7 linked regions of the Homo sapiens genome follow. The protein of the gene in region 1 purifies or fractionates together with the protein of each later gene. This does not show direct contact. Each region holds a gene or a part of one and is shown in the gene's direction. Other genes may lie near its edges.

Region 1 (4,151 bases):
CTGCCTACAGTCTGGGAAAGGGCCACAGATGTCTTATTTGCCTTCAGGGATGTCCCTGCAGCCTGAAGGGTTCCATATTAGAGCCTTATAAATAGCCAAAATGAAGAACTGGTGAAACAAGAGTGAAGCCCCTAATTCCAATAGCTTTGATACGTATTGGTACTTCAACAACTAGATTTTCCAAATATATATTGAACAGAGGGAGAAGCCTGTGTTTATTCCAGGACAGCCCGGAAGATTGTCATATGCCCGTTCTTTCATGGGACAAACTGTAGTTGCTGAAAATAAATTGCCTGTGAGTTCTCCTCTCTGAGCCTCCTGGACGTTTCCTGATTCAGTATCCTGCAGTGCCGTGTGAGCCCCCGGTGTTGGGTTTCTTTTGTCCACATGAATAAGGGGTACAGAGAATCAGCTCTGGGTGGGCTGAGACAGAAGAAGCTGTCACCCGATGGCCATCTGAACTGCAGGTCAGAATCCTGGCATCTTCTCTGGTTTACCCAATTTGCTTGGGGCCCCACTTTGTGAATTACAAGCTCATCTCTGTTCACAGCAGGGGAATCTTTGCATGGTTTGTGGGAGGGGACTGACTGTCTGGGAATCTGTCATGCTTGTGAGTTACTCTCTGTATTTTTGGTATTTGGTTTCTGGATACAGGTGAAGCAGTTAAAAAATATTTGAATATGGTCAAGAGAACTTTTGGAAAGATTCTATTTAAAGCTATATATGCCGTTTGGGTACTGGCGGAGGTGGTAAAATTTACAAGGAAAAGCCATGTGGGAATGGCCCAGGCGAAATTAGTCTGATGACATCTGATAAGTAATGACAGATATCATGCCTCAGTTTCCTCATCTGTAACATAGGGAGGTGAAATAGGGCCCTTATTAAATCATGACTAAATCTGGTGGGTGTAAATGCTTGGAGAACTGAGTGTAAACTTTAAATGAAGGCGCTATGATTATTTTTTATTTATTTATTTACTTTTGAGACAGAATCTCGCTCTGTCACCCAGGCTGGAGTGCAGTGGCATGATCTCAGCGCACTACATCCTCTGCCTTCTAGGTTTAAGCAATTCTCGTGCCTCAGCCTCCCAAGTAGTTGGGATTACAGGTGTGCACTACTATGCCTGACTCATTTTTTGTATTTTTTTTTTTTTTTTTTTTTTTTTTTTTAGTACAGACAGGGTTTTGCCATGTTGCCCAGGCTGGTCTTGAACTCCTGAGCTCAGGTGATCCGCCCACCTCGGCCTCCCAAAGTGCCAGGATTACAGGCATGAGCCATCATGCTCAGCCGATTACAATTTTTTATTAAAGCCTGGAATGGAAGAACCCTTCCAGGCTGTTGCCAGAGCTCAGGATGCTTGGCCCTTCTGCCTTCCTGGATTCATTTCATTCCTCTCCAGGTTCCTGAGGGTCCAGAGCTAGAGACAGAAGAGACTTAGAGATGTTTCAGGCTCTTCTGGGTTGGAGCAAACCTTCAATTGGGCAAGAGCTCAGCCACTGTTGGCTTCCTCTCAAGGCAGAGGGGCTGGGAAGCTGCCTGTACCCTCATGCCCCACCCACAGAGCAGGGACCCAGCTGTCTACTTAATCCAGCAGAAACAGAGGACAAAGAAGAAAGAGAATGAGGGAGGAGATGACATTTCTTAGGCACCTTCTATGCTCTAGGCACTGGTGTTAACAGTTTAACATCCATATCTCTTTCTGTACTCCAGTCCTGGGAGGTGGGCGGTGGTCTCTCCGAGGGACTGAGAGGAGACCTCCCTAGATTAAGTGGCAGGGTCATGTGTCCAGCCAGACATGGCATAGGGGAATGCCAGGGTCTTTCCACCAGCCCTGTTGACCTGGCGCCAGAGTCCTAGGTGAGCAGTGGTCTCACGGAGCAATTTGGATTTTGAAATTTTGCACAGAAAATGAGACTTTGTCTTTCTGGGTTGGCCTCATGGGGTCAACAGGAAGGCAGATCTTAACATCTTGCTTCCTAATGCCTCTTAGACATACTGCAGTCTGCCAGTGGAATCACTTGATGGCCTTTTACCCGAATCATTTGATTGCAGTGGCTCCTTTGGGAGAGCTTTAGCAAAGACTATAATTAAAGGAATCATTTTTTAAAAATGACAGAAATAGGGGCCGTGTATTTTGGATGTGTTCTGGGTTACTTGCCAATATTGTGTTAACATTTATTCCAAACAAATTTCTGTTCACAGTGGCAGTCCATAAATGTATTCACGTTCCAAGACAGTCAAACACAAAAAGGTCACATAGGAAGCACTGAGTATATGAATTTTCAGAAAAGTCCACCAAACACTTATCTGTCTGATCCCAAAGGGTAGCCAGGCGAAAATCAATATAAAGCCTTAAAAAAATAGCCTGCAGTCACCAGATTTGTCTGATGTTTGTGTTTTGCAGAATTGGCTATCCAATTCCCATATTTGCGGGATTCTGCATCATGTTTGTCTCAACAATTAGTAAGTGTGTGGTGTTTTCCTTCTGAGTGTGGGTCTCATCAGGGTGGGCATTGATGCCCATGAGCCGGGAATTAACAATACAACCTAAGGACGGCGGGGGGGCGGGGGGGGTCGTGGTTGGCTCATGCCTGTAATCCGAGCACTTTGGGAGGCTGAGGTGGGCGGATCATCTGAGGTCAGGAGTCCGAGACCAACCTGGCCAACATGGCAAAACCCCGTCTCTACTAAAAATACAAAAGGTAGCCAGGTGTGGTGGCATGCACCTATAGTCCCAGCTACTGGGGAGGCTGAGGCAGGAGAATCACTTGAACCTGGAAGACGGAGGTTGCAGTAAGCCGAGATTGCACCACTGCACTGCAGCCTGGGCGACAGAGCAAGACTCCATCTCAAAAAAAAGTATATGGCCTGGGAGGTTTGTGTATTGGCAACAATTGCAGAAAGGAATTGATAGCTTTTTACGGAACAAAAGCACAGGGTGGCTAACATGCAAATGCTCCACTGGGTTAAGGGGGGCTTCTGAAACGTTCCTGTTTGGGACGGTTGTGTCCCAGCAGCACTGATGTGCGGTCTTGGACCCCCTCTCTCGGCAGTGTTTGCCTTCTCCAGCAGCTATGCCTTCCTGCTGATTGCCAGGTCGCTGCAGGGCATCGGCTCGTCCTGCTCCTCTGTGGCTGGTAGGTGTGGAATGCCTGAGTGAGTTCGTGAGGGGCCCCTTGCAGAGTGAGCTGGACTCATTCAGGGAATTCAGGTATTGGTGGTGGTTGGGGTGCTGGGGATTCTTGGAGAAGGCACCCACTTTCCTCTTGGGTTCTGCTTGGTCTTACATTTTAGTGAATCTGACAGGTTTGGGAAGATCACAAGGCTGGCTGGAGAGGGAAGGCGAGTCACGCATTATTCTTTTGCTGTTCCCCGGAGCTGGCCTGTTGACTATTTCTTTCCCTGTGTAGGGATGGGCATGCTTGCCAGTGTCTACACAGATGATGAAGAGAGAGGCAACGTCATGGGAATCGCCTTGGGAGGCCTGGCCATGGGGGTCTTAGGTGGGTAAGGCCCCCGTGTAGGCAAACTGGCAAGAGGGGCCTGCCTGGTGCTGGACAGCGGCAGTCCTCGCCCAGTGACCCTGGCGCAGTTTGCACTGACACAGAGGTCCCCTTTTTATTTTTTTCCTTTCCTGCTTTCATGGAGACTTTGAAAAATGGTAGGAAGAGCCCTGAGCTGGGGGTGGAGGGGATCAGGACTTCCCCTGCCTCTGCCCCAAACCTCCCTGGGCCCAGATGGAAAACCAAAGGTTGAACAGGATGGTCTGCCAGACCCTTTCCTCGGGAACATTCAGTGAGTTGTGATCACGGAGAACCTTGCTTTCTGGGTCTGCCTCCCCCAGCTGCCCTGGCTGACTTCCCAGACCAGGGGACAAACATCTTCCCTGAGAGGGATTCAAAACCTTTTCCTTCCTCTTCCGATTTCCCGCCTGCTTCCAGGAGCCTGCAGCCTTGCCTGCGCTGGTGTACAAGGAGCGAAGTCTCTGTTTACACATTTTCCTGTGCAGTGGAAGCAGCCCAGCCCTGGGCCTGGATCTTGTTTCTCTCGGGCCTTTGCTTTCAGGGTGACCTTTATAGACTCCTGCCCATTTCTTAGGAAAAGGCACTTGGAGGAAGTTGCCAAGACAACTGAACTCTAACCGAACAGAA
Region 2 (4,151 bases), on another chromosome or scaffold:
GCTTCAACATATGAATTTGGTGGGGGTGCAGCTCAGTCCACAGCAGGTAGTAATGTGCATTTTAAAACTTGTTTATACAGTACAAGAAGTTACTTACTGAAGAAGGACAAAAAATAGGAACATTTGAGAGATTTATTTCTGGTTCCATGGCTGGAGCAACTGCACAGACTTTTATATATCCAATGGAGGTGAGTACCATTGTCAAGTCTGACTGTGTGATGGTGTTCGTGTTGGTTGTCTATTGCTCTCTAACAAGTTATCCCAAAATTAACAGTTTAAAACAAGCATTTATCATCGCACAGTTTCTCTGGGTCAGGAATCTGGAAGCAGCTTAGCTGGGTGCCTCTGGCTCAGGGTTTTTCACAGCCCACAGTCAAGATGGTAGTCAGAGCTTGGAATCAGCTGGAGGCGGATTCCAAGCTCACTCATGTTGCTGCCAGGCCTCACTGGCTATTGGCTGGAAACATCAGTTCCTTATCACGTGAGCCTTTCTGTAGGCTGCCTGAGTATCCTCAAAACACAGTAGCTGGCTTCCCTAGAGTCAGTGGTCCAACAGAGAGAGAGAGAGAGAGTGCCTAAGATGAAAGCTGGTATCTTTTGCCTCTTCTGCTGTATTCCATTGATCACACAGACCAACCCTGGTAGAGTGTAGGAGGGGCTGGTATAATGGTGTTAATAACCGGAGACAAATATCACTGGGGGTCACTTTAGAGGCTGGCTGCCACTTTAGAGGCTGGCTGCCATTCCTGTCCAAAGAGTTTCTGTACCATAAATTTAATAATGGAATCTCAGGATTTGATTATATGGTGATTATCCTAATTAGACATCCTTTCATTAGTGCATAGGTTGGCAAAACACAGACCTACGGACTGTTTCATACAGCCCTTGACCTAAGAATGCCTTTTACATTTTTAAAAAGTGGGCAACACAGGAAAAAGTGAGAAAGATCTAAAATCGACACCCTAAGATCACAATTAAAAGAACTAGAGAAGCAAGAGCAAACAAATTCAAAAGATAGCGGAAGACAAGAAGTAGCTAAGGTCAGAGCAGAACTGAAGGAGATAGAGACACGAAAAACCCTTCCAAAAATCATTGAATCCAGGAGCTGTTTTTATGAAAAGTTTAACAAAATAGACAACTAGCCAGAATAATAAAGAAGAAAACAGAGGAGAATCAAATAGACACAATAAAAAATGATAAAGGGGATATCACCACCAATCCCACAGAAATGCAAACTACCATCAGGGAATACTATAAACACCTCTATGCAAATAAACTAGAAAATCTAGAAGAAATGGATAAATTCCTGGACACATACACGCTCCCAAGACTAAATCAGGAAGAAGCTGAATCCCTGTATAGACCAATAACATGTTCTGAAATTGAGGCAGTAATTAATAGCCTACCAACCAAAAAAAACCCAGGACCAGACAGATTCATAGCCGAATTCTACCAGAGGTACAAAGAGGAGCTGATGCCATTCCTTCTGAAATTATTCAAACAATAGAAAAAGAGAGATTCCTCCCTAACTCATTTTATGAGGGCAGCATCATTCTGATACTAAAACCTGGCAGAGACACAACCAAAATAGAAAATTTCAGGCCAATATCCCTGATGAACATCAATGTGAAAATCCTCAATAAAATACTGGCAAACTGAATGCAGCAGGACATCCAAAAGTTTATCCACCATGATCAAGTTGGCTTCATCCCTGGGATGCAAGGCTGTTCAACATATGCAAATCAATATAACGGAATTCATCAATAAACAGAACCAGTGACAAAAACCGCATGATTATCTCAATAGATGCAGAAAAGGCCTTCGATAAAATTCAACACCACTTCATGTTAAAAACTCTCACTAAACTAGTTATTGATGGAATGTATAACAAAATAATAAGAGCTGTTTATGACAAACCCACAGCCAATATCATACTGAATGGGCAAAAGCTGGAAGCATTCCCTTTGAAAACCGGCACAAGACAAGGATGTCCTCTGTCAGCACTCCTATTCAACGTAGTATTGGAAGTTCTGGCCAAGGCAATCAGGCAGGAGAAAGAAATAAAGCGTATTCAGATAGGAAAAGAGGAAGTCAAATTGTCTCTGTTTGCAGTTGACATGATTGTATATTTAGAAAACCTCCTTGTCTCAGCCCCAAATCTCCTTAAGCTGATAAGCAACTTAAAGCAAAGTCTCAGGGTACAAAATCAATGTGCAAAAATCACTAGCATTCCTATTAACCAATAATACACAAACAGAGAGCCAAATCACGAGTGAACTCCCATCCACAATTGCTACAAAGAGAATAAAATACCTCGGAATACAACTTACAAGGGATGTGAAGGACCTGTTCAAGGAGAACTACAAACCACTCCTCAAGGAAATAAGAGAGGACACAAACAAATGGAAAAACATTTCATGCTCATGGATAGGAAGAATCAATATCATATCATAGGAAGAATCAGTGGCCATACTGCCCAAAGTAATTTATAGATTCAATGATATCCCCATCAAGCTAACATTGAATTTCTTCACAGAAATAGAAAAAACTACCTTAAATTTCATATGAAACTAAAAAAGAGCCTGTATAGCCAAGACAATCCTAAGCAAAATGAACGAAGCTGGAGGCATCACGCTACCTGACTTCAAACATACTACAAGGCTACAGTAACCAAAACAGCATGGTACTGGTACCAAACAGATATATAGACCAATGGAACAGAACAGAGGCCTCAGAAATAACACCACACGTCTACAACCATCTGATCTTTGACAAAAACAAGCAATGGGGAAAGGATTCCTTATTTAATGTATGGTGTTGGGAAAACTGGCTAGCCATATGCAGAAAACTGAAACTGGACCCCTTCCTTACACCTTATAAAAAAAAAATTAACTCAAGATAGATTAAAGTCTTAAACATAGACTTAAACTATAAAATCCCTAGAAAAAAACCGAGGCAATACCATTCAGGACACAGGCATGGACAAAGACTTCATGACTGAATCACAAAAGCAATGGCAACAAAAGCCAAAATTGACAAATGGGATCTAATTAAACTAAAGATCTTCTGCACAGCAAAAGAAACTATCATCAGAGTGAACCGGCAACCTACAGAATGGGAGAAAAATTTTGCAATCTATCCATCTGACAAAGGGCTAATATCCAGAATCTATAAGGAACTTAAGCAAATTTACAAGAAAAAAAAACCCACCAAAAAGTGGGTGACGGATATGAACAGACACTTCTCATAAGAAGACATTTATGCAGCCAACAAACGTGAGAAAAGGCTCATCATCCCTGGTTGTTAGAGAAATGCAAATCAAAACCACAATGGCATACCATCTCACGCCAGTTAGTTAAAAAGTCAGGAAACAACAGATGCTGGCAAATATGTGGAGAAATAGGAATGCTTTTACACTGTTGGTGGGAGTGTAAATTAGTTCAAGCATTGTGGAAGACAGTGTGGCAATTCCTCAAGGATCTAGAACCAGAAATACCGTTTGACCCAGCAATCCCATTACTGGTTATATACTCAAAGGATTATAGATTTTTCTACTATAAAGACACATGCACACGTATATTTATTGCAGCACTGTTCACAATAGCAAAGACTTGGAACCAACCCAAATGCCCATCAGTGATAGACTAGATAAACAAAATATGGCACATATACACCATGGAATACTATGCAGCCATAAACAAGGATGAGTTCATGTCCTTTGTAGGGACATGGATGAAGCTGGAAGCCATCATTCTCAGCAACCTAACACAGGAACAGAAAACCAAACACCACATGTTCTCACTCATAAGTTGGAGTTGAACAATGAGAATACATGGACACAGGGAGGGGAACATCACACACTGGGGCCTTTTTGGGGATGAGGGGCTAGGGGAGGAATAGCATTAGAAGAAATACCTAATGTAGGTGACAGGTTGATGGGTGCAGCAAACCACCATGGCACGTGTATACCTATGTAACAAACCTGCACGTTCTGCACATGTATCCCAGAACTTAAAGTACAATTTTTAAAAAGTAGGCAAAAACAAAAGAAAAGAAAAGTAATATACAACCGAGACCTAATATTTTAGGCTTGCAACGACAGATATTTTACTATTTAGTCTTTACAGGAAAAGTTTTCCAACTACTGCTTT
Region 3 (4,151 bases), on another chromosome or scaffold:
GGCACAGCCTTCATGATCCAATTGTTAGTTGGCAGATCTGTGTCTGTACAGGTCTGCAGCAACCTCAATTCTTGCCTCCTGAAAGAAATAATTCAAGTAAAGGACATAATGCAGAAGGAGAAACTGAGGCAAGTTGTAGAGCAGGAGTTAAAATTTATTAAAAAGCTTTAGAGCAAGAATGAAAGGAAGGAAAAGAAGGAAAGTACACTTGGAAGAGGGCCAAGTGGGCAACTTGAAAGACAAGCCTGCGGTTTGACCTTTTGACTTGGGATTTCATACACTGGCATAATTTTGGGGTCTTGCATTACTTCTCCCCACTCACCCCACCCCTGAGATCGTATCAGGAAGCTGCTAATTACCAGGTGTTTTCTATTTATTAGGAGGCTGCCTTTTCCTAGCACTAGCTGTGACCAATAATTACTTTAGAGAGCGTTAACAACCGCCTGACCATCACCTAACAGTCTCTCCACACTCCCCATGTGAGGGGCAGGGGAGACCTCTCCTGCCCTGTTCATACCCAACTAGCTACCTAATGTAACACAGTCACTTCTTAAAGGTCCTACCTTTCAATATTTTAATAATATTAATTTAAATATTAATTTCCAAAAAATGAAATTTGGGGGACACATTCAAACCATGGCACCACCTCTTAGCTTCTGTGACATTTCTCTATCCTGGCTTTCCTCTTAACTCTAATGACTTATTCTTAAATTCTTTTGTGTATTCTTCCTTATCAGTTTATCCCTTGTTGGTTTTTCTATGAGGTTGGAGAGAGAGTGTGTGTGTGTGTGTGTGTGTGTGTGTGTGTGTGTTCACACGTGCATATGTGTGTTTTATCCTAGATTCTGAACTTTGTCCCATATTAGATGTATAGCCAACAATTTATTAGATAAATCCATGGTACTTGGATGAACCCAGGCTCCTCAGGTCTTTACACATTTGTCTCCCTTTTTACTGGAATGCTTTTCCTCTCTCCATCTTTCTTTTGCTCTCCCCTTTCTCCTTCCTCACTGTCTTTTATTCACTCTTCAAGGTTTTGCTCCAGTGTCACCTCCTCTGGAAAGCCTTCTCTCTCTCTCTGTTTTTTTTTTTTTTTTTGCAATGGAGTCTTGCTCTGTTGCCCTGGCTGGCATGCAGTGGCGTGATCTTGGTGCGCTGCAATCTCTGCCTTAAGGGTTCAAGCGATTCTCCTGCCTCAGTCTCCCAAGTAGCTGGGACTACAGACGCCAGCTACCACACCCGGCTAATTTTTGTATTTTTAGTAGAGACGGGGTTTCACCATACCGGCCAGGCTGATCTCTACCTGACCTCAGGTGGTCCACCCACCTCGGCCTCCCAAAGTGCTGGGATTTCCACCTCCTGGGTTCAAGCGATTCACATGCCTCAGCCTTCCAAGTAGCTGGGATTACAGGCACCCGCCACCATTCCTGGCTAATTTTTATAATTTTAGTAGAAGTGGGTTTTCGGCATGTTGGCTAGGCTGATCTCGAACGCCTGACCTCAGGTGATCCTGCCTCAGCCTCCCCAGTTGCTGGGGTTACAGATGTGAGCCACTGCACCTGGCCTGGAAAGGCTTCTCTCACTGTCCCTCACAACAATTTGGGTCAGAAGCTTTTCCTGTATACTCCCGTTTCCCTTTATCATTAGCCCTTAATATGGAGTGTCCTAACACTGTATTTACAGAGAGTTTACTTAACTCCCCTACTAGATTGTCTAGATTGTTAGGATTGTTTTTTTTTTTAATTTTTGTGGTTTTTTTTGTAAATGGAGTCTCGCTCTGTCACCCAGGCTCGAGGTCAGTGATGCAATCTTGGCTCACTGCAGCCTCCACCTCCAAGGTTCAAGTGATTCTCCTGCCTCAGCCTCCCAAGTAGCTGGGATTACAGTCGTGCACCACCACGCCCAGCTAATTTTTGTATTTTTAGTAGAGACAGGGTTTCACTGTGTTGACCAGGCTGGTCTCAAACTCCTGACCTTGGGTGACCCACCACCTCAGCCTCTCAAAGTGCTGGCATTACAAGTGTGAGCCACCATGCCCAGCCCAGTTTTTACGAATTTCTACTTTTTGAAAATGCTCTCCTAAAATATATTTTTAAAGGAATATAAGAAGAAAAGAAATACAAATTTTACTTTTTACTGGTTTAGTGCCATATTTTCATTGCTATTTTGAAAATAATATTACATGAAATTATTACCCATTACACTAAAAATTCTTTCCATGCTGGTAGTCATTGGAATTGGCACAATTCTGGAGCAACGTCTTCTCTACTAAAAAGATATTTTCATGTATCAAAATTCTTAATTTCTTGGCATTTAGTCTTTTTAGTCAAAATTCTCAAAAGAAGGATATTAGTAGTGATTAGGTCTACTCAGCATACTATGTTGAGTTTTGAAAAGTACTCTCTTTTCTCCAGATATTTTGAAAACTCTTTAAAGAGTCTTGCTATCAGGCCCAGTGCTGTGACTCACGTGCCTGTAATCCCAGCGCTTTGGGAGGCCAAGTTGGGAGGATTGCTTGAGCCCAAGAGTTCAAGACCAGCCTGGGTAACGATATAAGACCTCGTCTCTACAAAAAAATTTAAAAAGTTATCTGGGTATGGTGGTGCTACTCCCTGTAGTCCCAGCTGCTTGGGAGCCTGAGTTGGGAGGATTTCTTGAGCAAAGGAGTTTGAGGTTACAGTGAGCCAAGATTATGCCACTGTATTCTGGCCTGGGTGACAGAGCCAGACCCTGTCTCAGAAAAAAAAAAAAAAAAAAGTTTTGCTTTCAAACCACTACACATTTAACATTAAAATTGAGTTTTCATTGCTTTTTTGAAAATTAAAATTTTATGTAACATGAAATTATTATTTTCTATTTTAGTAGAGATGACAAATGAAGCTAAAGGTAATACAGGAAGAAAATGAAAACCAGAGTACCTAAAATGAAAGATATTTTAACGGCTAGAACTTTAAATATTATGTATCATTATACTTTTGCATATTATTTCTTATTTTTTTCATAAAGAAAAACGCACCTAAATATTTTCACTTTAAATATCTTTAGGGAATTACCAGGCACGGTGGCTCACACCAACAATCCCAGCACTTTGGGAGGCCAAGGCAGGCAGCTCACCTGAGGTCAGGAGTTAAGAGATCAGCCTGGCCAACATGGTGAAACCGCGTCGCTACTAAAAAAAATATAAAAATTAGCTGTGCCCACGTGGTGGCACATGCCTGTAATCTCAGCTACTTGGGAGGCTGAGGCAGGAGAATCGCTTGAACCTGGGAGGTAGAGGTTGTAGTGACCTGAGATCGCACCATTGCACCCCAGCCTGGGCAACAAGATCAAAACTCCGTCTCAAAAGTAAATAAATAAATAAAATAAAATAAATAAATAAATATCTTTAGGGAACAAAAGGTCATAGTTTTCCTTATTAAATTGTTCTACCACTTATCTATATTTGTTTAAATTTATTTCCTAAAATTTAATAAAAGCCATTAAATAGGAAGATTAGAGATAGAATCTTCCTATGTTGCCCAGACTGGAGTGCAGTGGCTTTTCACAGGTACAGTCATAGTGTGTTACAGCCTCCAACTCCTGGGCTCAAGGGATCCTTCTACTCTAGACTGCTGAGTAGCTGAGATTACAGGCATGGGCCACTTCGCCTGGCTTAGCCTACCACATATGAAAAAAAGTAATCTGGCTGAGTGCGGTGGCTCATGCCACTAATCCCAATATTTTGGGAGGCCAAGGTGGGAGAATTCCTCCCTCCCGCGGCAGGAGGATTGCTTTGAGAGTTGGAGGCGGGAAGTTCAAGACCAGCCTGGGCAACATAGGGAGACCCTGTCTCTACAAAAATAAAAAAATTAGGTGGGCATGGTGGTGCATACCTGTAGTCCTGGCTACTCAAGAGGCTGAGGCAGGAGGATCACTTGGGCCTCAAAGGTCGAGGCTGCACTGAGCCGTGATCGGACCACTGCGCTCCAGCCTGGATGTCAGAGTGAGACCCTGTCTCAAAAAAAAAATAAAAATAAAAATAAACAATAGTGCCTTTTCTAAGCTAACATTTTCTATTTTTCTGAAAGTATTTTATTTTCTGAGTTGTAGTCATTTGGTTCTCCCCTTAAGTTCATCATGATATGTAAACCCTTTTAAAGTGGTAGAATACT
Region 4 (3,590 bases), on another chromosome or scaffold:
GCTGAATTAAAGCTAACATACAGTATCTACTACCCTATTCTTCTAACCCATTTGTCTATTATGATATAGTTGTCTTGACAACTATAATGAATAGCTGTCTTTCTGAAATCTTTAGTGGCTCATCATTGCCTGCAGAATCAAAACTCCTTAGTCTGATATACAAGGCCCTTCATATCTGATTCCAGCTTACCTTCTAATCCTATCTTCCCTCTCCTTACCCACCCTACTGCTAATGTGTATTATATTGTCTTTATGACATACCATTTGTTTCTTGAACATGCTTTGCTCATTATTGCCTCTTTCTCTGCCTGTGCTAGTGTGTCCTCTTAGAATGTTCTTCCATCTTATCCTGCTCTACATTCTAACTTCTACCCATCCTACAAGTCCAATTCCAGTGTCATGTTCCCTTTCTCAATCCTCCAGGGTAGAATTTAGATGTTCTGTCTTTTAGAGATAGGTATTGCTATGTTGCCCAGGCTGGTCTCAAACTCATGGCCTCAAGCGATCCTCCCACCTCAGCCAACCAGACATGAGTGACTGTGCTCAGCCTTTTTTAAAAAAATGAAGGTATTTGGTATGGCCGGGTATGGTGGCTCACACCTATAATCCCAGCACTTTGGGAGGCCAAGGTGGGTGAATCACCTGAGGTCAGGAGTTTGAGACCAGCCTGACCAACATAGTGAAACCCTGTCTCTACTAAAAACACGCAAAAAGTGCAAAATTAGCTAGGCGTGGTGGCTCATGCCTGTAATTCCAGCTACTTGGGAGGCTGAGGCAGGAGAATCACTTGAATCCGGGAGGTGGAGGCTGCAGTGAGCCGAGATCGTGCCATTGCACTTCAGCCTGGGCACAAGAACAAAACTCAGTCTCAAAAAATAAATAATAAAAAATAAAGGTATATAATATGTCTTAGATTTGATGAAATATGAGTGTGTTTGAGATCTGATCCAAGGTTTTAAAAAATTCATTTCAAATCCTGGAGATAAATTCTGAGGAGCTTACTTATGAAAAACTAGCAAGTGATAGCTGGTATTTACAGATATGGTACTTTACACAATTTATGTAATTAATATTTTCTCACAGACAAGGTTCCTTGTGGATATCACTGAATAATTTTTGTGTAGTTTCTATGCCCATGAAGTGCCTGGTAGGTAGTAGGAACTCACACGTTCTGCTATGCTGGTTGCAGCACAGGACACAAAAGTTAGAATTATTTCAAAGGACTTATACTCTACTAGGAAAGAGAGAAACATAGAAATATAGTGTTGTATGTGGTATCTTCCCTAAGATAAGTACAACCAAAGAGCTATGGATGTTCAGAGATAGAATGTAGTACTGGGATGATGTCAAGGAGGCAGTGGTACTTAAGCTGCTCAAGGTAGGGAAGCAGTTTACTTGCTAGTTTTTCATAAGTAAGCTCTTCAGAATTTATCTCCAGTATTTGAAATGAATTTTTTTAAACCTCAGATCTGAATATATTCAAACACCCATATTTCATCAAATCTAAGGCATATCATATACCTTTAATTTAAAAAAAAATGCTGAGCAGAGTTGCTTATGTCTGGGAGGCTGAAGTGGGAGGATTGCTTGAGGCCAAAAGTTTGAGACCAGCCTGAGCAACATAGCAAGATCCTGCCTCTAAAAACAAACAAACAAAAAATGCTGCCAGTTGATCATTACATTTATCCCGACATCAGATATGTCAAATTGTGAAAAGCACCTTAATTTTGATGAAATATGATAGGTAAAAAATAGCGCAAAGCTAAGTATAAGTGACTTTTAAATTATCTGCTCTTTTGGATTATCACTACTGCTACTAGCCGTTAGAATATTGGTTTGGATAATGGAAAGTTGACTAGAGCTACAAAATCTGTTTCAAAATAAAAGATCTGCTCAAACAAGAATGTGATGATCACTTGCTGTATTGTACAACAAAGTCAAACTGCTGTTAGACTCAGGTGACAGTCAAATGTTGGAGGCTGTGTTGGGATGAGTTGTTACAAAGCCTCTTTCATTCTTCCCATGCCATGTCCAGGAGTTCTTCTCTGTTAAACCTGAAGAGATGCCAGCCCTCCTCAGAGGAAAGGTCTAAAGCCCCTCGACTAGTATAGTAGTTGATAGAAGCCTGGTTCCAAATGACGACAAGAAAGTGCATGCAGTTACATTGAGTTGTGATGGCTATCTGTTTAAAAACAAACAAGCAAATATTACTTTCATTTGAAAGTATAATCTTCGTTAACACATATATTTTATTGAAGGTCTACTCTATGCAAGACACTATGTGTGAATAATACTTCCAAATATAGTAGTTACCTTTTGAACTTTTCTATAGCTGTAAAAAGAAAAAAGTCTCACTGTTCTGAGCTTTAAAGCCCTCTTTAAAATCTCAAAACTGATTTGCAAAGCCTTTATCATACAGAAAAGGTGTACCTAAAAGAACACATGTTCTCATATGTTTCCAAAATACAAGAAGATCTTGCTTTTATAGTCTTGTAATATTCATACTGTGAGCCTGTGTTTTTGAATAAAAATGCTTTCTAATCTCCCTCCTTCTTACTTTCCCTTGATAGCAAAAAGGGTGTATAGTGTGGTTGTGGATTATATATAAATCAATTTTAATTGACTATAATTCATATACTGTATATGATCATCTGATTTGAAAATCCAGTTTAATTTGGGTAGAAATTTGAAGTATATGTTGGGGTTATGTTCAAATGGTGAGATTAATGATTTAATTTATGCCCTGTGAATATTTATTAAGAAAAGGTTAATGTATAGAATATCAATACTAATTGTAATACATACCTGACTTAGCCTCTTCAGCATTTCAGCTCCAATACCTAGGCCTTTTAAATAGACAATGCAAAGTGAAAACTGCAAATTTCACTTAACTTGTTATTTGCTTTAGTTTAAAATAAATAATATCTAAAACTCTGTATCTGTTTTTTGTATATTATTAATAGCTTCTGGAAACACAACTCGTGAATGCTTTCATATCCCTTTTTCCTAATTGGAATGACGTACCAAAGGTCATAGAAGAGTTTGGGTTTATTTTAAAGATCAGTGAAGAAGTGAGTCTCTGCCACTATTGTCTTATAACGGTATATTTCTTAGCTGTTTTTACTGAAAACCACCTAAAATGTGAAAGCATTTTTTAAAGATAAAAGTATAGCTGTGTGGCCTATACTCACACGATGGCTCACACATGTGATGGCACGATGGCTCACACCTGTAATCCCAGCACTTTGGGAGGCCAAGGCAGGAGGATCACTTGAGCCCAGGAGTTTGAGACCAGCCTGGGCAACACAGACCCTGTTTCTCCAAAAAATAAAGAATTAGCTGGGTGCTGTGGCACATGCCTGTAGCCCCAGCTACTTGGGAGGCTGAGGTGGGAGGATTGCTTGAGTGTAGGAGGTTGAGGTTACAATGAGTCGTGATCACACCACTGCATTCTAGCCTGGGTGACAGAAAACCCTGTCTCAAAAACAAAATAAAAAAATATATAGCCATGTGATAGCTTGGCTTATTCAAACCTTGAGAGGAACTAATAAAATGTTTTTCTAATCTGTGACTGAGTCTTCACAATCACA
Region 5 (4,661 bases), on another chromosome or scaffold:
GTGACGGCGGAGACCCTGCCCCGCCAGCTGCTCAGTACGTGCCGCGTAGCCCGTGCGAGCCAAGTGTGAGTCCGGGCGAGCGCCTGCGGAGCTAGCACTGGGCCCAGAATGAGAGGGAGGCGGAGGAGCAGCGATCACGTGGTTTTAGGGACTGTCTAATAATTCCACGCCAGCATTGCCGGTGTTTCAGGGGGTGGGAACCGCTGCGTTCCCCATCAACTTTTCTCCCACCCACCACCCTCCCCAACCTACAAGCCCAGCTCAGCTTGAGGTAACTGCTGACCGGACTGTCCTATACAGCCCTACAAGACAGAGGCGCCTAGGGCTGAAAGCGGGGGCCTCCGTAGGGAGCCAGCGGGGGCCTCAATAGTTACTCATTTTCTCTACCTTTGATGAAAATAAGAGCTAATTCTTAATAAGGCCTACCGGGTATCACGCAAAAACCCTGTGCTTACTATTACACTTTGGGTTGTTGCAAAGATTAAAGGAAATAAGCCGTGCAAAGCGCTTAAGAGCTTGGTATAAGTAAGTGCTCGTCAATGTTGGCTACTCTCATTTTTTTTGCAGACGTGGGAACTGGGGCTCAGGGAGGCTAACAGCCAGTAGGCGGCACAGCTAGGATTTGAACCCAGGATTGTCTCCAACGCCGCTCAATTATACCCGCCAAGGAGTCACAGAGACTTAGTGAAGTGCACACATTGCTCACCTGGGTGAACTGAGGTCCAGCGGGGGAAGGCTTCCTCCTGTTGTAATCACTAACCCCAACTCTGTCTCCCTTGCCCGATTCATTCATTCGTTAATTAATTCATCCAACATCCTGTCCCCAAGAAGCTCAGTCTGGGGACATACTGATCCAGTTAAATGCGAGTGCTTCCTAGTTATACATGGCGACTGCTGAGAAGGGACTCCAGAGTCCAGGCACCTACCTCCCAGGGGCTCACCGTTCACTCCTCTAGCCTCATTTAGAGCTCGCATTAAGAGCACGGGATCTGGATCCACACTGTTTGGATTCAAATCACAACTTCACCACTTAGCAGCTGTGTGTTCTGGGAAAATGACCCACCTTCTCTGTGCCTCCATTTTCTCACCTGTAAAACGGGCTCCCAGGCTGGTGGGAGGGTTTCAGGTGTAAGACATGGAGAGTCCTTTAGCGAACATGTAGACTGGCAATAAACTCAATAAATGGTGACTGTTATAATTAATCCTCGGAACCATCCTAGGGAGTGGACACTATTGTGTTCCCCATTTTATTTATTACATTAATTTTTTTTTTTTTTTTTTAGTAGAGACGAGGTCTCGCTATGTTGTCCAGGCTGTTCTCGAACCCTTGGGCTCAAGAGATCTTCCCGCCTCCGGCCTCCCAAAGTGCTGGGATCACAGGCGTGAGCCAACGGGCCCAGCCTGTGTCCCTCCCTCGTTTTTACAAATGAATAAAGAGATGCTGGATAAGCCCGAGGTCACAAGCTTTGCAGTGTAGCATCCCCCAACTTGATCCCCTGTCTCTTTGGCTCCAAAACCTACACTCAGTCCTGGGAGCGATTAGCGCCAACAGCTCAGAGAAAACGTGACGAAAACCAGTCTGTAAAACCCGAGCCTGGGAGAGGGGCTTCGGTGCGCGGGGGGAATTTGCAGACGCTCCCTGCTGGCGGAGATTTCCTGACCTGTCCTTCGGCGCGGGACTTTCGGCGGGTCCCGGCCGGGCAGACCCAAGTGCCGGCGGCGGAGACTGCAGTGGAGCCAGTACCGGCTGTAGTGGCCGGGGCCGTGGCGGGAGAGTCATGTCAGAGCCGCAGCCGCGGGGCGCAGAGCGCGATCTCTACCGGGACACGTGGGTGCGATACCTGGGTGAGCGCGGGGCGACGGGCGCGGCGACCCCACCACCACTGGGCTGGAGAAGCAGGGGTCGCCGGACGCCCGCCCGGGGCCTGGAGGAGGCGGGATGATCTTAGTTCTCATTCTGCTTTTGGGCCGGAGACTGGGCTCAGACAGGGCTAGGGACTTGCCCAAGGTCACACTACCCTGGTGGGTCGCCCAGGGCGGAAGCTCCCATGGGGTGAGCGGGCTGCCCGCTCTGGCATGCGCTCTGGCTGGCTGTGGAGTCGGGATCTCCACTCCCATTTCGGTCCTGACACGCACTGGCTCTGTCTGAACCTCAGTTTCCTCCTCGGCAAAAAAACAAAAACAAAACAAAAAACAAACGAGATACACACGAGGGCCTCTCTCATTGGGTGGTGGTTGCGAGGGTGGAATGGGATAAAGCGCAGAAAGCCCTGGCACTTGGCGAGCGTCTGGTCAGTGGCGCTGCCCTCGATCACTCTGCCCCTCTGGGTGCCTGTCACCTCATTAGTGCAGTTACTCCTGGGACCAAGACCAGGAAATCTAACCAATAAGCAATGGTAACAGTGACTCAGTGCTCAGTCCGCCCTCAGTGGCCCGAGTCCGAGGTGGGCATCATGGCACCAGTTTACATCTCGGAAAGGGAGGCTCAGAGAGGTCAAGTCACTTGCCTAAGGTCACCCAGGGACTGCTTAGCTGGCTAGGATGAGAACCAGCCTGCTCCAACGCCCCCTCGTGGAACAGTTGCGAGCCTAGGAATTAAATGTTCCCTCCCCCAGGCTATGCCAATGAGGTGGGCGAGGCTTTCCGCTCTCTTGTGCCAGCGGCGGTGGTGTGGCTGAGCTATGGCGTGGCCAGCTCCTACGTGCTGGCGGATGCCATTGACAAAGGCAAGAAGGCTGGAGAGGTGAGTGTTAGCCTATTTTCCAACCCCCAACCCTAGCTCTCTTCTTGTGTGGTTCAGTCCACAGCCTTGCATGTGATAAAGTCCCTGTGGGACACTCCAGTCCCTACAACCTTGCCTAGTGCAGTCCATAGACAGTCCTGTTTGTAGGACAGTGTACCCCTGCCCCCACACTCCCACTCCCCGAACTGGATGTGGCAGACTGTACCCCACTCCTGGGTGCGGACAAGTCCACTGGCCACTTGCCCCTCCCGGTCTAGCCTCGTGCCCCTTGTCGCAGGATTTTCTGCCTCTGCCCCAGCTGGATTAAGTGTCTCTGCGCCCACCAGGTGCCCAGCCCTGAAGCAGGCCGCAGCGCCAGGGTGACTGTGGCTGTGGTGGACACCTTTGTATGGCAGGCTCTAGCCTCTGTGGCCATTCCGGGCTTCACCATCAACCGCGTGTGTGCTGCCTCTCTCTATGTCCTGGGCACTGCCACCCGCTGGCCCCTGGCTGTCCGCAAGTGGACCACCACCGCGCTTGGGCTGTTGACCATCCCCATCATTATCCACCCCATTGACAGGTGGGTACCTTCTTGGCCTCAGGGATCATCCACTCTCCAGTGATGAGAGTGGATCATCCAGTCTCCAGGTAGAGCTAGACTCTGTGAAGTGTGGGGTATGCCCACTTTGCTGGAGCAATAGCAGGGACAAGGCTGGCACTTGGCTCCTGGGTTAGAAAGGACAGCCTGTACCCTTGTCATATGGTATGGCAGGCACTTTAGCAATAAAAGAAGAGGGGTGCGTTGAGGGTATGGGACACAGGACAAGTAAATTCCCAGAAAGAAAGTCTAGTGTTACAAAACAACCAGAGAGAAGCAGGAGCAGGTGCACCCTAGAGGGGATGCATTTTGGGAGGTATTGGTGACAGAAGCCTAACTCAAACTGAATATTTGAATAAAATGGAGTAAAAGTCCAGGGCTGTGTTGCATTCAGGCATGGCTAGATCTAGGTACCCAAATTATGTCATTAGGGGTCTGGGTCTCCCCATCCTGCTGCCTTTCTCCCCACCCCACCCTATTTCTTGCTGGCTTCACCTGCTTTCTCCTTGTGGGAGTAGAAATGGCCCTAGCAGCTCCCAAGTTCTATCCCACCAGCTTAGCCTCCCCCAGCAGAAGCTTTTAAACAGTAACAACAAAAATCCCAAGGAAGGGTGTCATTGGTCCATTCTGGACTGCATGCCCACCCTATGAGCCAGTTTCCCTTTGCTGATTGGCCAGGCTTGGGTCACGTGCTTGGTCTTAGAACTAGATATGGGCTCAACCCAACCAGACCAATGTAAGAGTGAGAGGAGCAGTCTTTCTCCAGGAGAAGATAGCTGACCCTGAGGCCCTGAGCAAGTCTTTTACCCAGTACCTCAGTTTCCTCCTGAATAAAGAAGAGGATGGCTTCTATTCTGGGAGTTTGATTCTAGCTTCCCCAGGTAGCCCAAGGTGGAAGGATCAGGATAAGGGTGGGTCTCTGGCTGGATGGCATTTGTATCCTGCATCTAAGCGCCCCTTTCCCTAACCCTGGCCTTCTGCCTTCTGTTCCCTCATGAACACCCTTGGTCACCTGCTCACCACCCTTCCACTCCCTACAGGTCGGTGGATTTCCTCCTGGACTCCAGCCTGCGCAAGCTCTACCCAACAGTGGGGAAGCCCAGCTCCTCCTGATCATACTCTGGTACCTGGCCTGTGCATCGGCCTCCTGCTTCATGTCAACCTCCTACTCCTGCCAGGGAATGTGGACACCTGGCTCCCTGGTGTCCAAAGACCCTGGCACCTGGGTGGGTTTGAGCTGGACAGAAGCTTAGAGACAAAGGCTTCAAGAAGCAGTGGCTGCAGGGAGTCACAGAAGGGCAGGACCTGAACGCTGTCTGCTTCCCTGGAATCCAAGATGCT
Region 6 (4,151 bases), on another chromosome or scaffold:
GAGAATCTAAAGCCACTGCTGGTCTGACAGGAGGCAGAGCTCAGGCAGTAATGCTCATTTGCCCACCACTCACCTCCTGCTGTGCAGCTCTGTTCCAACAGGTGGCGGTTGGGGACCCCTCTTTCAGAGAGTAGGGAAGGACTCTCCTCCCAACAGAAGTCTGCTTTCTTTACCTTAAGTAATTCCCCCTTGCAGTCTCAGCCTCCTTTTGGTAAGAGAACTTGGCTCAGTTAAAGTCTAACATAATTTCTTTTTCTAAGGCAGCTAACCTCTTGTAGACCGGAGAAAAGGGTGGATCTCAAATAATGATTAAAAGATTCCCTGCAAACCATTGACTCCTCACCCAGGTTCAAGATGGCACACAGACTACCTCTCCTGATGCGAGTCACCCTGGTGCCTGCTGGCCTCACTGTGCTGTGGCCTGAGCCAGCAGCTCTGGATGTTCTCAGTGGTTCAGGTTGTTACTGTTGAGGCCAGAGTGTACAGTTCATTCTGGCCAGCTGCACATTTCCAACTTTCCAAAGCTTTGTATTTATCAGAAGAAAATGCAGAATTAGGAGAGGTTGCTGTTGACATGCAGTCTCCTTTACCAAATTTGGTTTTCTTTCTAAACAAGGTAGCGTTCTTTTAATCTTTAGTGGCAAGTTGATGATACACATGTATTATATAAAGTAACACCTCCTTTTCATGGGCCTCATCTGTTGTTGCGTTGTTGCACACATAGCCTAAATTGTGGCTCATGAGGCTTGACCCCAGGAGTTTCCTCATATTGGGGTGCCCTGGCCAGGTGCTCCTCTCCTGTTCTGCTGTAGTTGCAATATATACAGGATTAGTACAACACAGTCCCTGCAGGACTCAGTAGATGTCTAAGGCCTGTTTACATTCCACCCCCAAATTGGTGAAAATTGGTTATGGTGGAGGGAGCCAAAAAAGGGCAAGATACATTGATGAGGGGTGAGGACCTGGAGAAGCTGGCGCTTTCCAGGTTGTCAGTGACTGTAACCACACCTCTGATTTTTAGAGAAACCAAGGAGACTTGGCCCAGGCAGAGAGCATATCTGGTGCTGTCGTCCTCCACAGTTCTCTCCCCAGAGGGGAAGAGAGCCCCAAGAGGGCTGGCCATCTTCTTAAAGAAAGGAGGGCCCAGCAGCACCCACACCCCCCTCGTCCCCAACACACAGGGACTGTCACACACACGTGCCCAGCAGTGTCCCCATTCTGTGTTCCCTGAATTGGGACAGCAGAAGGTGGAATTCTCAATAGCCTGTTGTCGGGTTGAGGGGTTTTTTCAGTGCTATTCCTCAGTGTAGCTCATGTTGTTAAAAGTGGCAGCCGTGCATCTGAAAAGCTTTCAGTCTCATGGTCGGGTTCAGTCTGAACATGTAGGTGATTCAGATGGAGACAGAATCATAGTTCTGGTCAGCCAGAAGCCACTGCCTGAACTGTGGAGAATAGGCCAGACACCCTAGGCCCTTGGCCTCCCATCCACATTCCTTTCTCTGGGTACTGAGGAATCTCTGGGAGATGTAAAGGAGTGAAAGTGCCATCATCTGACCCTTCTGATAGGTGGCAGGCCCTGCCCATGGAAATGAAGGTCTGCGTGGCCATCTTCTTCCTTGAACTGCCACCAAGGGCTTAATGCATGACTTCCAGGTCATTCTCCTTCCCCGGGCCCTCTGAACCAGCTGTGAGACTGCAGCCACCCACTATGGGGTTGTGTGAACACAAATGCAACCAGTGGGAAGGTCTTGTGCATGCCCAGCTCACAGATTCCCTTCATTACAGTAAATCTATAGAAATGGGACTGGCCCCACATTTTTAAATGATTACCATTAACATTCCTAATGGTTTAATTATATCTTTACTTCCAGTTTTTAGATTATAGAGCTTGTCAGATTTTCTGGCTTTCGTGCCAAAATAGTTCTCTGCCTGTCGAATTATATGCTTAAGTGGGGTCTTTTCTGTGAACGACGTCCTGCCTGGCAGTAGCAATGGCGTGGATGGCAGCCCTGTTCCACGTGCTGCCTCCTCTGCAGGTTAGCAGATCTTTGTCACACACGCACTGGTGTCCCGGCGTACTTTGGGAGGATCATTTGAAATCTGGCCAGCTTGGAACCCATTTAAAAAGGAAGAAACTTGTCAGGAGAGAGTTGGGAGTAGTAGAAATTATCTTCCAAAAAATATTCGTGACAGTATAAAAAAGAGAGACTGGGCTGGGCTTGGTAGCTCATGCCTATAGTCCTAGCACTTTGGGAGGCTGAGGCGGGCACACCCCTTGACCCCAGGGGTTCCAGACAAGCCTGGGCAACGTAGGAGATCTCATCTCTACAAAAAATTCAAATTAGTTGGGTGTGAAGTGGTGTGCACCTGTAGTCCCAGCTACTCAGGAGGCTGAGTGGGGAGGATTGACTGAGCCCAGGAGGTCCAGACCATGAGCCAAGATCACACCACTGCATACCAGCCTGGGTGACAAAGTAAGACTCTGTCTAAAAAAATAATAACAATAAAATAGAGATTGGAGCTGTTGGAGAGATGAGGAGAGGAAGGATATTGTACAACAAAGAGCATTTTACCTGGAGTTGTTTACACACAGTAACCTTGTGAAGGCCAGGTGGCTCAAAGTGGTATTTCCTAGCAGGGACACTATAGGCATTTTGGGTGGGATACTTCTTAGTAGTGGGTACTGTCATGCATTATGGCATGTTTTAGCATCCCTGGTCTCATATGCCAAATGCCAGTAACCTTTCCCTTTCTCCCTTATTTCCAAATAGTCAAACTATCGAAATAGTTCCAAATAGTTCCGAGGGAGGCAGTACTATCCCATTCATTTGAGAACCAGTGCTTTCTAAAGTATTCTACAAAATGACCAAGAACAGAAGAATCCCCAGTGCCTAAGACACTGGCTTGCTTTTCATAAGGCCTTTTTTTTTTTTTTTTAACATCCAAACCTGGCTTAGTTGTGTTCAAAGCAAATGTTGTGGCATTCCTCCTCCTCCTCAAGTCTTTACCCGAAACTACTTCCCAAGAGAGGTTGCTCTTCCCAAAGAATCACCTGCCCTGGGACCATATGGGGCTAGGCTGAGGGTCAGGAGCCAAGAGCCTGGTCCCAACTCTGTCTGTGGCTTACTGTGAGACCCTAGGCAAGTTGCTTACCCTCTCTGGGGCTCAAATTCTTCCTCTTTGAAATAGGAATAATAACTTCATCACTAGAATTCTTCACCTGGTTGTTGTGAAGTTAATCAGAATAAATGTGGAGATAATACATGAATGAGCGTACAGAATATTATTTGGCTGTTCTGTGGCATCGATATAGGTCATGATAGTGACAATAGTGTCTGTCATTGTATTCCACACCACTTCTTCCCTCAGCTAAAGCAGGAAAAGAAAGGAGGTAAGTCTCTCTGTGTTTTTTCTTCCTTTCCCCAAGCCCACTTTGTTACCTTCCTTGGTTGCTGGATGAGAAATTAGTCAGAGGGTCAGAGAGGACCTCAACTTCATATGCTTTAAATAGAGCATATGCAATTTTAAACCATCCTCTTAACCAATTTTTCTTTTCTTTTCAGTTTTTCCCCAGTTATACTTCCACATGATACACCAGAGAAGAAAGATCCTTTCTCATACTGAAGAACACAAGAAATTTGAATAGTTCCTGCTTTCTGCACCTCCCACCAAAACAAACTTTTCAATGATCAAAAAATGCTGCAGATTTTTTGAGTTCCCAATACGTTTCATAGAAAATAAGTAAGAACTATTTTTAAAATATTCAAACAAAACTAAAACAAAAATCCAGTGTCACATGGGCCTGAGATTTTATTTTAGAAAAAGGTTGTTACATAAAACACCCTGGCCAGTTCATTTCAGCATGCTCTTTCAACCAGAAGTTCTTAATATTTATGATGGCACTAGAAAGGGATTTGGCATTTTATGTCCTTCTGTGTCCTTCATGTATCTGATCAATGAAGACCTGTAACACTAAGTACTTGAGAGTTACAGTCTGAATAATGAAGTCGTACCAGCTGAATAGCCCAGCTTGCAGTATAGTTATGTTTCAGTCTGCAGTGTGTTTAGCATTCCCTTGTCAAAGTGCTTGACTGCATGCTGGAAACTTTGTATTTTTGAAGCGGCAAACTCTGTTCTCTGGAATGCTCTGA
Region 7 (4,151 bases), on another chromosome or scaffold:
TGAAATTGTTCTACCTCAGATCATGAGGCATTCAATTCTCATAAGGAGCACGTAACCCAGGTCCCTCACACGCACAGTTCACAGGAGGGTTTGCCCTCCCCTGAGAATCTCATGCCGCCACTGATCTGACAGGAGGTGGAGCTCAGGCGGTCACACTCCTTCACCATCTGCTCACCTCCTGCTGTGGGGCCCAGTTCCTAACAGGCCTTAAACCAGTCCCAGCCTGTGTCCAGGCCTTGCGTACCCCTGCCCAGCACCGGCCAGTATTTCTTTGGAAACACCCAGAAGCCCAGGTGCCCACAAAGCTCTGTTCAGCTGTCAGCAGACCCCTCCCCGGCTGTTCCTGGTCACGCATCTCTCATTTTGCAAACTTTCCAGAGCGGATCGTCATCAGGAAGAAAGGTGCAGCTGGGCGTGGTGGCGCATGCCTGTAATACTGAGGTCAAGAGTTCAAGACCAGGCTGGCCAACATGGTGAAACCCCATCTCTACTAAAAATACAAAACTTAGCCAGGTGTGGTGGCATGCACCTGTAGTACCAGCTACTCAGGAGGCTGAGACATGAGAATGGAGAATTGCCTGAACTCAGGAGGTGAAGGTTGCAGTGAGCTGAGATCGCACCATTGCACTCCAGCCTGGATGACAGAGCGAGACTGCATTTCAAAAAAAAACGAAGAGAGGTGTGTTTGCACCCTGGCTTTTTTGTTTTTTACAAAATGATGACAGGATCATTTAAACAGCCAGCAGAATTTTAATTATTTGGAACTAATTCCATAATACAGGATAAAAACAGAAAAATAACCAGAAAAAGGTTAAAAATGGGGTGTCCTGGTACAAGCTGTTCTTATTAAAACATACCCTTTAGCCTGGATGCAGTGGCTCACACCTGTAATCTTAGCACTTTGAGAGGCCGAGGCAGGAGGGTTACTTAAGCCCAGAAGGTCAGTGCTGCAGTGAGCTGTGATCGTACCACTGCACTCCAGCCTGGGTGACAGAGTGAGACCCTTTCTCTAAAAATAGAAAAAGACCCTTTAAATCCTGACATATCATGGTTTCATTTCTATCTTTACAGTTGTTCTGAATTTTTTTTTTTTTTTTTTTTTGAGATGGAGTCTCACTCTGTCGCCCAGGCTGGAGTGCAGTGGTGTAATCTTGGCTCACTGCAACCCCCACCTCCTGGGTTCAAGTGATTCTGCTGCCTCAGCCTCTGAGTAGCTGGGATTACAGGCGCTCGCCAGCACGACCGGCTTATTTTTTCTATTTTTAGTAGAGACGGGGTTTCACCATGTTAGTCAGGGTGGTCTTGAACTCCTGACCTCAGGTGACCCGCCTGCCTTGGCCTCGCAAAGTGCTGGGATTACAGGCATGAGCCACCGTGCCCGGCCTGAATTTTGAAGATCAGAATCTTTTCATCAAAGTCCCTGAAGGCTTTTCTGTAGAAATCGACAAACTGATTGTGAAATTCTCGTGGGCGTGCAAAGGACCCACAGCTGCCGAAACACTGGGGAGGAGTGAAGCTGAATGGCAGCAGGTCCTGGGTGCAAGACTCACAAAACCACAGTCATGGGGCCACGTGGTGTTGGCTTTCAGACCGATGAGCAGAACGAGAGCGTCCAGAAACAGGCGCCCGCACGCGGACCACTGACTTGATGAAGGCTCAAAGACCATTTAATGGCATCTTTTAATAAGGATACTGTAAATGATAGGATCACTCATACACCAGAAAGTGAACTTGGAGTCAAAAAATTAACCCCAGATGCGTCAGGGATCTGAAGGTAAAGCCCAGAACCGCAGAGCTAGGGCGAAGCCTTTGTGACAGTGGGCCGGGCCACACTTCGTGGGATACGTCCTCAAAAGACCGCAGAGTGATGACGAAGCCTTTGTCACCGCGGGCCGGGCCACGCTTCCCTGGGTGCATCCTCAAAAGACTGCAGAGTGACGACGAAGCCTTCGTGACCACGGGCCGGGCCACACTTCGCGGGATACGTCCTCAAAAGACCACAGAGTGATGACGAAGCCTTTGTCACCGCGGGCCGGGCCACGCTTCCCTGGGTGCATCCTCAAAAGACTGCAGAGTGACGACGAAGCCTTCGTGACCGCGGGCCAGGCCACGCTTCCCTGGGTGCATCCTCAAAAGACCGCAGAGCTAGGACGAAGGCTTCGTGACCGTGGGCCGGGCCACGCTTCCCTGGGTGCGTCCTCAAAAGACCGCTCTGTAACAGGGTAAAGCAATGTGTGGACTTCATCAAAATGAACACTTCTGCTTTTTCAAAGGCCTGTTGAAAAAACGAAAAGACAAACCAAAGACTGAGATGTTTGGAGATGATGTATGTAAGGATTTATCTCCAGAGTATAGGAAGAGCTCTTGAAACTCAGCAGGAAAACAATCCATTTTTTTAAATGGGCAGAAAACAATTTGGAAAGACCCTTTACCAGGGAAGATAGGCGGCAAACAAGCCTGTGAAGAAGACGCTCGGCGTCGTTAGTCATCGGGGAATGCAAAGGAAAAGCACACGGAAATGCCACTGTGCCTCTCGGACTGCTTTCAATTCAAGACTGAGCGTACCGCGTGCCGCTGAGAGTGGGAAGGAGCGCGGACTGGCTCAAACACTTTGGAAAATGGTTGGACAGTTTCTAAAACAGTTAAACGTGCACCTTCCCTGTGGCCCAGCCCTTCCACAGCTGGTATTTGTCCCGGCACAGTGAAAGCCCAGGCCACACAGACTTGCCCTGGACACCATTTGAATGCTTCTCCACAGAGGAGCGGGCACTAAACTGGCATCTCCCCAGAACAGGCCACTTCCCAGGTTCAGAAAGGAGCGGGCACAGGCGGGCCTCAGAAAACGATGCAGAGTGAAAGAAGCGGAGAAGGGAGGAGAGTGAACGAGAGGCTTCCACTTGTGTCAGGCTCTAGAAAGTGCAGCTCAGTCACGGGACAGATCCAGGGGTGCCGGGGTGCCTTGGGGGCTGCAGTGCAGAGGAGCAGAGGAAGCCGGGCGAAGGACGCAGCTGTCACCCCCACCATGCCGATGGCTTCGCAGCCGTGTCTCTCATATGGCGATGGCTTCGAAGGCATGTCTCTCTGATCATATGGGGACGGCTTCACAGACGTGTCTCTCATCATATGGGGACGGCTTCACAGGCGTATCTCTGTCATCATATGGCGATGGCTTCGCAGGCTTGTCTCTCTGATCATATGGGGACGGCTTCGCAGGCGTGTCTCTCTCATATGGGGACGGCTTCGCAGGCGTGTCTCTCTGATCATATGGCGACGGCTTCGCAGGCGTGTCTCTCTCATCATATGGCGATGGCTTCGCAGGCGTGTCTCTCTCATCATATGGGGATGGCTTCGCAGGCGTGTCTCTCTGATCATATGGCGACGGCTTCGCAGGCGTCTCTCTCTCATCATATGGCGATGGCTTCGCAGGCGTGTGTCTCTCTGATCATATGGGGACGGCTTCGCAGGCGTGTCTCTCTCATCATATGGCGATGGCTTCGCAGGCGTGTGTCTCTCTGATCATAGGGGGACGGCTTCGCAGGCGTGTCTCTCATCATATGGCGATGGCTTCGCAGGCGTGTGTCTCTCTGATCATAGGGGGACGGCTTCGCAGGCGTGTCTCTCTGATCATACACGTCAGCACGTGTGGCAAGTGTGTTGTTTGCATCTCTGTGTGGCTCTAAATGTTTGTTTTTTGAGACAGGGTCTCGCTCTGTCACCCAGGCTGGAGTGCTGTGGCGCAATCCTCCCACCTCAGACTCCTGCGTAGCTGGGACCACAGGCATGCACCACGGCACCTGGCTAATCTTCCTGTTTTTTATAGAGATGGGGTCTTTGCCATGTTGCCCAGGCTGGTCTTGACTTCCTGGGCTCTAGTGATCCACCTGCCTTGGCCTCCACAGGGCTAGGACTGCAGCCGTGCACCGCCTCTGTGAATGTTCTGAACGACGGGGCATTTGTCAGCTTTGCGTCCACCCCAAGACTTGTTTTGAAATGGTGAGGTTGAAACTCACAGGTGTCCCTTAAATGTGATGTGCGGTAACTTGAGTTGTTGAGGTTTTGCTTGTGAATTTCTCATTCTTCTTTCCCTTTTTCGTTCCAGAGCGCCGCCCTGTGCTGGGCTGCCGGGAGCTCGTCTTCAGGAACCTCTCCAA

What was found.
Region 2: the proteins of SLC18A2 (region 1) and SLC25A24 purify together in Homo sapiens (co-immunoprecipitation; 2 studies listed by BioGRID and IntAct, with this or other methods). This does not show direct contact.
Region 3: the proteins of SLC18A2 (region 1) and MFSD8 purify together in Homo sapiens (affinity purification with mass spectrometry; one large-scale study listed by BioGRID and IntAct). This does not show direct contact.
Region 4: the proteins of SLC18A2 (region 1) and APOOL purify together in Homo sapiens (affinity purification with mass spectrometry; one large-scale study listed by BioGRID and IntAct). This does not show direct contact.
Region 5: the proteins of SLC18A2 (region 1) and MTFP1 purify together in Homo sapiens (co-immunoprecipitation; 2 studies listed by BioGRID and IntAct, with this or other methods). This does not show direct contact.
Region 6: the proteins of SLC18A2 (region 1) and HACD2 purify together in Homo sapiens (affinity purification with mass spectrometry; one large-scale study listed by BioGRID and IntAct). This does not show direct contact.
Region 7: the proteins of SLC18A2 (region 1) and DNAAF5 purify together in Homo sapiens (co-immunoprecipitation; 2 studies listed by BioGRID and IntAct, with this or other methods). This does not show direct contact.

The regions. Positions count from the first base shown.
Region 1 is NC_000010.11:117,250,995-117,255,145, forward strand, and holds part of SLC18A2 (synaptic vesicular amine transporter), read left to right. Parts: intron 1-2,404; coding exon 2,405-2,463; intron 2,464-3,053; coding exon 3,054-3,137; intron 3,138-3,410; coding exon 3,411-3,503; intron 3,504-4,151. UniProt on the Homo sapiens protein: Electrogenic antiporter that exchanges one cationic monoamine with two intravesicular protons across the membrane of secretory and synaptic vesicles.
Region 2 is NC_000001.11:108,144,316-108,148,466, reverse strand, and holds part of SLC25A24 (mitochondrial adenyl nucleotide antiporter SLC25A24), read left to right. Parts: intron 1-80; coding exon 81-188; intron 189-4,151. UniProt on the Homo sapiens protein: Electroneutral antiporter that mediates the transport of adenyl nucleotides through the inner mitochondrial membrane. Originally identified as an ATP-magnesium/inorganic phosphate antiporter, it also acts as a broad specificity adenyl nucleotide antiporter.
Region 3 is NC_000004.12:127,944,525-127,948,675, reverse strand, and holds part of MFSD8 (major facilitator superfamily domain-containing protein 8), read left to right. Parts: intron 1-4,151. UniProt on the Homo sapiens protein: Outward-rectifying chloride channel involved in endolysosomal chloride homeostasis, membrane fusion and function. Conducts chloride currents up to hundreds of picoamperes.
Region 4 is NC_000023.11:85,090,380-85,093,969, forward strand, and holds the end of APOOL (MICOS complex subunit MIC27 precursor), read left to right. Parts: 3' UTR 1-2,011; coding exon of another isoform or gene 2,012-2,182; 3' UTR 2,183-2,805; coding exon of another isoform or gene 2,806-2,846; 3' UTR 2,847-2,936; downstream 2,937-3,590. Other genes in the region: SATL1 (spermidine/spermine N(1)-acetyltransferase-like protein 1), read right to left, coding at 2,012-2,182, 2,806-2,846. UniProt on the Homo sapiens protein: Component of the MICOS complex, a large protein complex of the mitochondrial inner membrane that plays crucial roles in the maintenance of crista junctions, inner membrane architecture, and formation of contact sites to the outer membrane.
Region 5 is NC_000022.11:30,424,102-30,428,762, forward strand, and holds the start of MTFP1 (mitochondrial fission process protein 1), read left to right. Parts: upstream 1-1,666; 5' UTR 1,667-1,778; coding exon 1,779-1,845; intron 1,846-2,615; coding exon 2,616-2,743; intron 2,744-3,069; coding exon 3,070-3,302; intron 3,303-4,360; coding exon 4,361-4,433; coding exon of another isoform or gene 4,434-4,573; 3' UTR 4,574-4,661. UniProt on the Homo sapiens protein: Involved in the mitochondrial division probably by regulating membrane fission. Loss-of-function induces the release of cytochrome c, which activates the caspase cascade and leads to apoptosis.
Region 6 is NC_000003.12:123,494,383-123,498,533, reverse strand, and holds part of HACD2 (very-long-chain (3R)-3-hydroxyacyl-CoA dehydratase 2), read left to right. Parts: exon of another isoform or gene 1-3,563; coding exon 3,564-3,646; 3' UTR 3,647-4,151. UniProt on the Homo sapiens protein: Catalyzes the third of the very long-chain fatty acids (VLCFA) elongation four-step cycle (condensation, reduction, dehydration, and reduction).
Region 7 is NC_000007.14:750,490-754,640, forward strand, and holds part of DNAAF5 (dynein axonemal assembly factor 5), read left to right. Parts: intron 1-4,099; coding exon 4,100-4,151. UniProt on the Homo sapiens protein: Cytoplasmic protein involved in the delivery of the dynein machinery to the motile cilium.